2 linked regions of the Homo sapiens genome follow. The protein of the gene in region 2 purifies or fractionates together with the protein of the main gene of each other region. This does not show direct contact. Each region holds a gene or a part of one and is shown on either strand. Other genes may lie near its edges.

Region 1 (3,814 bases), on a different chromosome or scaffold from region 2:
GACCAGCCTGGCCAACATGGCGAAACCCCATCTCTACTAAAAATACAAAAAAAAAAAAAAAAAAAATTAGCCAGGTGTGGCAGTGCACACCTGTAATCCCAGCTACTTGGGTGGCTGAGGCATGAGAATTGCTTGAAGACAGGAGGCAGAGGTTGCAGTGAGCAGAGATTGCGCCACCGCACTCCAGCTTGGGTGACAGAGTGAGACTGTTTCCAAAAAAACCCAAAAACCAAAAACAAAAACACTGTGACGAATGGCACCTTCACCCATCACTGCCAGGCCTTTCCATGTGGTTCTCTCCCTGGGTCACCCTCTTCCTGCTTCTTGCCTGGAGAACAGCCAGGAGGTATTAACGTAAATATCACCTCCCCAACGCTCCTTCCAAAAACAGATGCCAGGGCCATCCTAATTAAATCAGAATGGCACTGGGAGGGTCCTGGGCACCCTTTTCTTTCTTTCTTTCTTTCTTTCTTTTTTTAAATTGACATATAACCCAAAGTACGCTGGTAAATGTCTAACAACCAACTCTCCAAAGAAAGAAGCCCTGATCTGGCTGGATGTGGTGGCTCACGCCTGTAATCCCAGTACTTTGGGAAGCCGAGGCGGGCAGATCACCTGAGGTCAGGAGTTCGAGACCAGCCTGGCCAACAAAGTAAAACCCCATCTCTACTAAAAATACAAAGATTAGCCAGGTGTGGTGGCCCACACCTATAATCTCAGCTACTCAGGAAGCTGAGGCAGGAGAATCGCTTGAACCCAGGAGGTGGAGGCTGTAGTGAGCCAAGATTGTGCCACTGCACTCCAGCCTGGGCGACAACAGCTAAGCTGTCTCAAAAAAAAAAGAAGCCCTGATCTGCAGTGTTTACCAATTTCTTTGGTGTAAATACTCACCACAGCTACTTCAAGCTATCAATATGATATCATTACAGAACTGGGAAGGGATGTGTTCCCAAATGTAACGTGTGAGCTGGCTCCTGCACACTCTGGGTATAACTTAAATACTGTAAGCCAGGCGCGGTGGCTCACGCCTGTAATCCCAGCACTTTGGGAGGCCAAGGTGGGTGGATCACGAGGTCAGGAGATCAAGACCATCCTGGCTAACATGGTGAAACCCCATTTCTACTAAAAATACAAAAGGGCAGGCCTGATACTACCCTCTGGCTTCCGTTTTCTCCTCTTTTTGCCTCACCGTGCTGTCAGCTCCAGAACATGCCCTTGGGAATGAGCAGCCTCCCATCTCCACATTCTGGCCCCTGGAGTCCCTGCACTTCCTTCTGATCAGGGAAGTGATTCAAGGTGGGACATGATCCCCTTTGAACATCGGGACCTGAGGCTGAGGGCATTAAAAGAGTCACCCTCTCTCATGCCCTGCTGCAAGAAAACAGCCCCTGATTTATCAAATGCCTTTTCCTGCCCCTCCGAAGAACTCAGCAGTACGGCATTTGTTTGAGAAATCCCCCCTGTACAGGTTTTCAGCGACTCAGAATGCTCTACTGCCTTCATTTTGAGAAAAGACTGAAATACCCTCCTGCTGTATCCCCAGCTCTGGTGGGGTCTGGACTCATGTTGGTCTCCTTGGAGTTGTGTAGTGTACCACCTGAACAACTGGGTGGCTGCAGCAGAGACCACTGTGTTCTGCATGTCACATCCTCTCCAATGACACCAGAGGTCACTGCAGAAAGTTCCCCATAAACTAATGGCATCTGCATTAGTCTGCATCCCGGGAGCAGTTCTCAGCCAGCGAGGGATGGGAGCTGGTGAGTGACTATCCCAGCACCGCCAGCCTCGGCGGAGCAACTCTCAGCAGAGCAACTCTCAGTGTGTTACGCACGGCCTCCTGGGGCACAGTGGGAGTGCATGCCAGCTGCCTGAAGTGGTCACCTGCTTGCTTGCTTTCTTATTTATTTATTTATTTATTTTTGAGAAGGAGTCTCACTCTGTTGCACAGGCTGGAGTGCAGTGGTGTGATCTTGGCTCACTGCAACCTCTGCCTCCCAGGTTCAAGCTATTCTCCCGCCTCAGCCTCCTGAGTAGCTGAGTACAGTCATGTACCACCATGCCCGGCTAATTTTTATATTTTTTTAGTAGAGACGGGGTTTCACTATGTTGGCCAGGCTGGTCTCCAACTCCTAACCTCAAGTGATCTGCCCGCCTTGGCCTTCCAAACTGCTGGGATTACAGGTGTGAGCTACTGCGCCCAGCCTCACCTGCTTATTAATTCATACTTCACTGATGTCCTCCCTTCCCTGTCCCCCAGTGTTTCCTGGGACCACCTTCCTAGGAAGCCACTTCCACCCAAATCCTGGTCTTGGAGTTTCCTTTTGGAGGCTCCAAAGCCAGGTCGTGGCCCTGCCCTGCCACCTCTTCCGGTCACTTGCTACCCCACCACTCGGTTTTATTGCTCTCACGGTTTTTCTTACCCTCTGACATGATCTTGCACATTTACTTGTACATGATCTCTTCCTGGTAGAATGGAAGCCCCAAGAGAGCAGGGAATTTGTGATCTTGCTCGCTCTCCAGCACTGAAATTGTGTCAAGCACACAGCAGGCGCTCAAGAAAAACAGATGCAATGGCTCATGCCTGTAACCTCAGCATTCTGGGAGGTCCAAATGGGAAGACTGCTTAAGCCCAGGAGTTTGAGACTAGCCTGGGTAACACAGCAAGATCCTGTCTTTACAAAAAAATTTTAAATATTAGCCATGAGTGGTGGCATGTGCCTGTGGTCCTAGCTACTCGGGAGGCTGAGGTGGGAGGACGGCTTGAGCCCAGGAGTTTGAGGCTGCAGTGAGCTATGACTGCACCACTGTATTGCCGCACAACCTAAGTGACAGGGTGAGACCCTGTCTCAAAAAAATAAAATAAAACCATGCAAATCATGGGCAAAAGCCTGTGTTCTCAAAGCCAAGACTAGACAGGATAAACCTTACTGTCAACCCTTGTCCCCAACACACGGGCACATATTCACACCTCCATGTGCACACACGTACACACAGTCACATGTATGTGTACAGTGCACACATGCATTTGCATACCCATGTGCACACATTCACACACACACACCAGTGTGTCATACCTCTCCAGTGGTGAGAAATCTTCAGCATAAAACATCTGTCCCTAAAGCCAAGCAGCTCTAACAGCCTTGCAGTTGCGGTGCTGATTCAGTGCTTGCTTTTTCAGCAGCATCCCTGGCTTCTGGGCCCATGAATCAATGTGCCCAGGGGAACTGGCAAACACACCATGAGGTCTGCCCAGTAAACAGCCACTCCACCTCTCTGGCCTGGTCAGTTCTTGGTGACTTTGCCCATGATGGGGGTGGCAGTTTGCCCCTCCCAAGCCCTCTGGGTGGCGGTGGTTCAGCAACTGACCTGTTGATGAACTCTTCATAGCAGGAGTAGATGGCAGCCAGGCACACGGCCACCAGGTTGGGCAGGACCCGGGGGTGGGGGCAGTGCCCTGTGGGGCCGTGCATGCTGGAAAAAAGCAGAGGGCTGGGGTGAGAAGCCTGCAGGAGTGGGGCCCATGGACAGGGTAAGGGGGGAAAGGGAGGGCGTTGCTCAGGCACGGGGCTGCCCGCTCTGCCAGCGCCACTTGGGGGGCTCTGAGAGCCTTCACTGTGCAATTGGTGGCACCAGGATTTGGGCCCCGGCTGTGCCACGTGCAGGCAGCAGAAGGCAAAGCTCCTGGCTGTGGACTCCGGATCCAGGGTTCCCGGGTTCAAACCCCTGAGTGGCCTTGGAAACCTCCTAAACTCTCCACCCTGTTTCTGCAGCGATAAAATGAGGATAGCAGCCCCCTCCTCAGTTGGGGTACAGT
Region 2 (3,914 bases):
CACACCATTGCACTCCAGCCTGGGCGACAAGAGCGAAACTCCTTCTCAAAAAAAAAAAAAAATAAAAATAAAAATAAAAAAGAAAAGAAAGAAAGAAATGCAGATTCTCAGACTCACCAATGACCTGAAACTCTGGGAGTAGGACCCAAGAACCTGGGTTTTAAGACACCCTCCAGGTGATTCTGATACACTCTCAAGTTTGAACATGGGTTTGAAAAGGGCTAACTTGACTCCGTGGAGTCAAGAGCTGGGGAAACCCAAGCACACCTTAGGTCCAGGTATAAAATTAGGCTAGGTTCTAAGCAACTGGAATCAATCTCCTAATGGACATACCAAAGAATAAGAACTGTTTTCAGGATGGCAACTAGAATACTGAATCCCCACAACACAGTCTTTCTGATCCTTTTTTAGGAGAGACATCTGCCAAAGGCCCTCTCAGACTGTCAAAACATCCTGGAATATATTTGCGTCCAACTCTGCACCTTGCTCTCTATTCCCTCACTTCAAACACTAACCTTTCCCATTTGTGCTCTCACCTGAACTGAGTAAATAAGCTTCTAACCACTCTTCTCCCCACCCCTCTCTTCTTGGTATCCAAGATGAGAGTGGCAGGCGAAAGGGTAGTTCTAATGTACCCAAGCAAATGGATACACATCCTAAAACAGGAGTGACTTATGCAGCTGCCCCTCCAGAGTGCATCTCACCTGCTTCAGCAACACAGTTGCCCTTTGGTCTAACCTCCCCCCCTCAACCGCCCCCACGTTCCTATTCCTGGAAAATGGAAAATTCCATAGCCAAACATCAAGCAGACACTTCCCAGAATGCAGCTCATCTCCTCTTCTCCTCCCGCAGAGATACCTCAGGTCTATAGGATTAAGAAAGGCAAGCCCAGCAGCCACTACTCACTGACCAGACCTGGCCCAACATGCTGCAGAAATAATTATCAATTAGTATACTTGAGAGACAGCAGCGTGAGGTGGAGAATGGGTTCTAAACTGAATGACAGCTGTTAACAGTTTTTGGCCCTGTTTTTCCTGTCCTGAATCCTCAACTGAGATCCTAGGGATGAGAAACGGGGGAACAGCACGCCCTACTTGAGAGAATTAGAATTTGAGGCGCTAGGAAGCAAAAGGTAAGAAACAGCTTAAATGTGTGGTAGCACTCCTGAAAATATGCTGGGGCCCCTCAAAAAGCTCACCTTCCCTCACTTCCCACTTCAACTGATTATGAGCATCTTGCTTGATTAAAAGCAATTCATAATAGTAATTGAGAATTAGTAAGAAAAAGCTTAATTAAGCTGAGATTAATTATTTAAGCTGGTACTCGAGGTTTTGGAAGAAAAGTAGAAATTTAATGTCAAGGTATGGAGGAAGAAAAAAGTATGATTGGAGTCAATTATATCTTTTGACAGACAGGAGACCTGATGAATGTCCCTGTCCCTCCAGAGTCCCTGAAGCACCAGTGAAGGGAGAGGGCCTGGCGAGACAGCATGTACAGGTACTTGGGAGTTGTCTAGTAACTTGCTGGTTGGAGGGGGAGGGACTAGCTCAGGGCCCAGGGGGAGGTCTATACTGAAGTTGCTGCCTTTAGAGAGCTGGAGAGGCAGGAGGCTGAGGACTGAAAAGAGAGGGTGAGTAATTCTTCATGACCTGTAGGATCCCAAAGATGGCGACCTGCCAGCCTGGACTGCCAGCGAAGGCCAGAATCGTGCTGTAGCTCTGAACCCACAGCTCCTCTGCCCCTGGCCCATGAGAATTTCAGCTGGAGAGATAGCATGCCCTGGTAAGTGAAGTCCTGCCACTTCGAGACATGGAATCATCTTTCTCATTTGGAGTGATCCTTGCTGTCCTGGCCTCCCTCATCATTGCTACTAACACACTAGTGGCTGTGGCTGTGCTGCTGTTGATCCACAAGAATGATGGTGTCAGTCTCTGCTTCACCTTGAATCTGGCTGTGGCTGACACCTTGATTGGTGTGGCCATCTCTGGCCTACTCACAGACCAGCTCTCCAGCCCTTCTCGGCCCACACAGAAGACCCTGTGCAGCCTGCGGATGGCATTTGTCACTTCCTCCGCAGCTGCCTCTGTCCTCACGGTCATGCTGATCACCTTTGACAGGTACCTTGCCATCAAGCAGCCCTTCCGCTACTTGAAGATCATGAGTGGGTTCGTGGCCGGGGCCTGCATTGCCGGGCTGTGGTTAGTGTCTTACCTCATTGGCTTCCTCCCACTCGGAATCCCCATGTTCCAGCAGACTGCCTACAAAGGGCAGTGCAGCTTCTTTGCTGTATTTCACCCTCACTTCGTGCTGACCCTCTCCTGCGTTGGCTTCTTCCCAGCCATGCTCCTCTTTGTCTTCTTCTACTGCGACATGCTCAAGATTGCCTCCATGCACAGCCAGCAGATTCGAAAGATGGAACATGCAGGAGCCATGGCTGGAGGTTATCGATCCCCACGGACTCCCAGCGACTTCAAAGCTCTCCGTACTGTGTCTGTTCTCATTGGGAGCTTTGCTCTATCCTGGACCCCCTTCCTTATCACTGGCATTGTGCAGGTGGCCTGCCAGGAGTGTCACCTCTACCTAGTGCTGGAACGGTACCTGTGGCTGCTCGGCGTGGGCAACTCCCTGCTCAACCCACTCATCTATGCCTATTGGCAGAAGGAGGTGCGACTGCAGCTCTACCACATGGCCCTAGGAGTGAAGAAGGTGCTCACCTCATTCCTCCTCTTTCTCTCGGCCAGGAATTGTGGCCCAGAGAGGCCCAGGGAAAGTTCCTGTCACATCGTCACTATCTCCAGCTCAGAGTTTGATGGCTAAGACGGTAAGGGCAGAGAAGTTTCAAAGTGCCTTTCTCCTCCCCACTCTGGAGCCCCAACTAGATCAGCAGGAGCTAGGGGGATGAGAGCACTTGCTTCAGGCAATTGACCCCTGTCCCAGCATCCCCCACCCCCAGACTGACAGGTAACTGAGGCAGAGTCCTGACTTTCTTCTATAATCAGTTTCCCCATTTTCAAATCGCCACTCCTCCCTGTCCTTCTTTTGAAATGAGCCTGTCTCTGGTGTACAGGTACACTTACTTAAAGCAAGAAATGTACTGCTAAAAAGATGCTTATAGATCAAATTCTATTTTTGAGTATACCAGAGCAGCACTGTCCAACAGAAATATAATGTGAGCCACACGCATAATTTTACATGTTCCAGTAACCGTTTTATAAAGGTAAAAAGAAACAGGCAAAACTAATATTTTATTTATCCCAACGTAACCAATATATTGTTTTCAACATGTCATCAATATAAAAATTATACTGGTTTTTTTTTCATACTAAGTCCTTGAGATCTGGTGTGTATTTTGCCCTTACAAAACATCTCAATTTAAACTAGCCATATTTCAAATGCTCAGTAGCCACATGTGGCTAGTGGCTCCCATACTGAACAACACTAGAGAAATGAGGTTCTGTTATTTTTAAGTGTTTACTATAGTGACTTACTACAGTAATTGCTTTGGCAAGGTGAGGAGTCCCTCCTCCTCCTGCCCTTACTGATATTAATCAGAGATCTTATATGGTGAATGTGCCTAAAAGGTAGAAACCTCAATTCCTCTAAAGCTTGTCTTTTCGCACACCTCATGATGTTTAAAATAGGTTATTTCCCAAAGAAACACTATCTTGTGATTATTTCTGCTGTTACCGGTCCCAATCCACCACCTTTTAACTCTCTGCTGCCCCTTCCCTTAAGATGGCCTCATATGTCACTTGTGGCTACTTGCTGATGACAATGCTGGATCACAAATTCTGAGGCACTGGGAGGGAAGAGAGAGAAAACATGTGGGTACCAAGGCAGGCACAGCCAAGCTCTCCAGACTGGAGCCACTTTGCTCCTCAGGGCTCCTTCCACTTACTCCCAATTTTGCATTT

The links.
Region 1: the proteins of GPR119 (region 2) and CMIP purify together in Homo sapiens (affinity purification with mass spectrometry; one large-scale study listed by BioGRID and IntAct). This does not show direct contact.

The regions. Positions count from the first base shown.
Region 1 is NC_000016.10:81,671,623-81,675,436, reverse strand, and holds part of CMIP (C-Maf-inducing protein), read right to left. Parts: intron 3,472-3,814; coding exon 3,367-3,471; intron 1-3,366. UniProt on the Homo sapiens protein: Plays a role in T-cell signaling pathway. Isoform 2 may play a role in T-helper 2 (Th2) signaling pathway and seems to represent the first proximal signaling protein that links T-cell receptor-mediated signal to the activation of c-Maf Th2 specific factor.
Region 2 is NC_000023.11:130,383,343-130,387,256, reverse strand, and holds the start of GPR119 (glucose-dependent insulinotropic receptor), read left to right. Parts: upstream 1-1,582; 5' UTR 1,583-1,809; coding exon 1,810-2,817; 3' UTR 2,818-2,821; intron 2,822-3,914. UniProt on the Homo sapiens protein: Receptor for the endogenous fatty-acid ethanolamide oleoylethanolamide (OEA) and lysophosphatidylcholine (LPC). Functions as a glucose-dependent insulinotropic receptor. The activity of this receptor is mediated by G proteins which activate adenylate cyclase.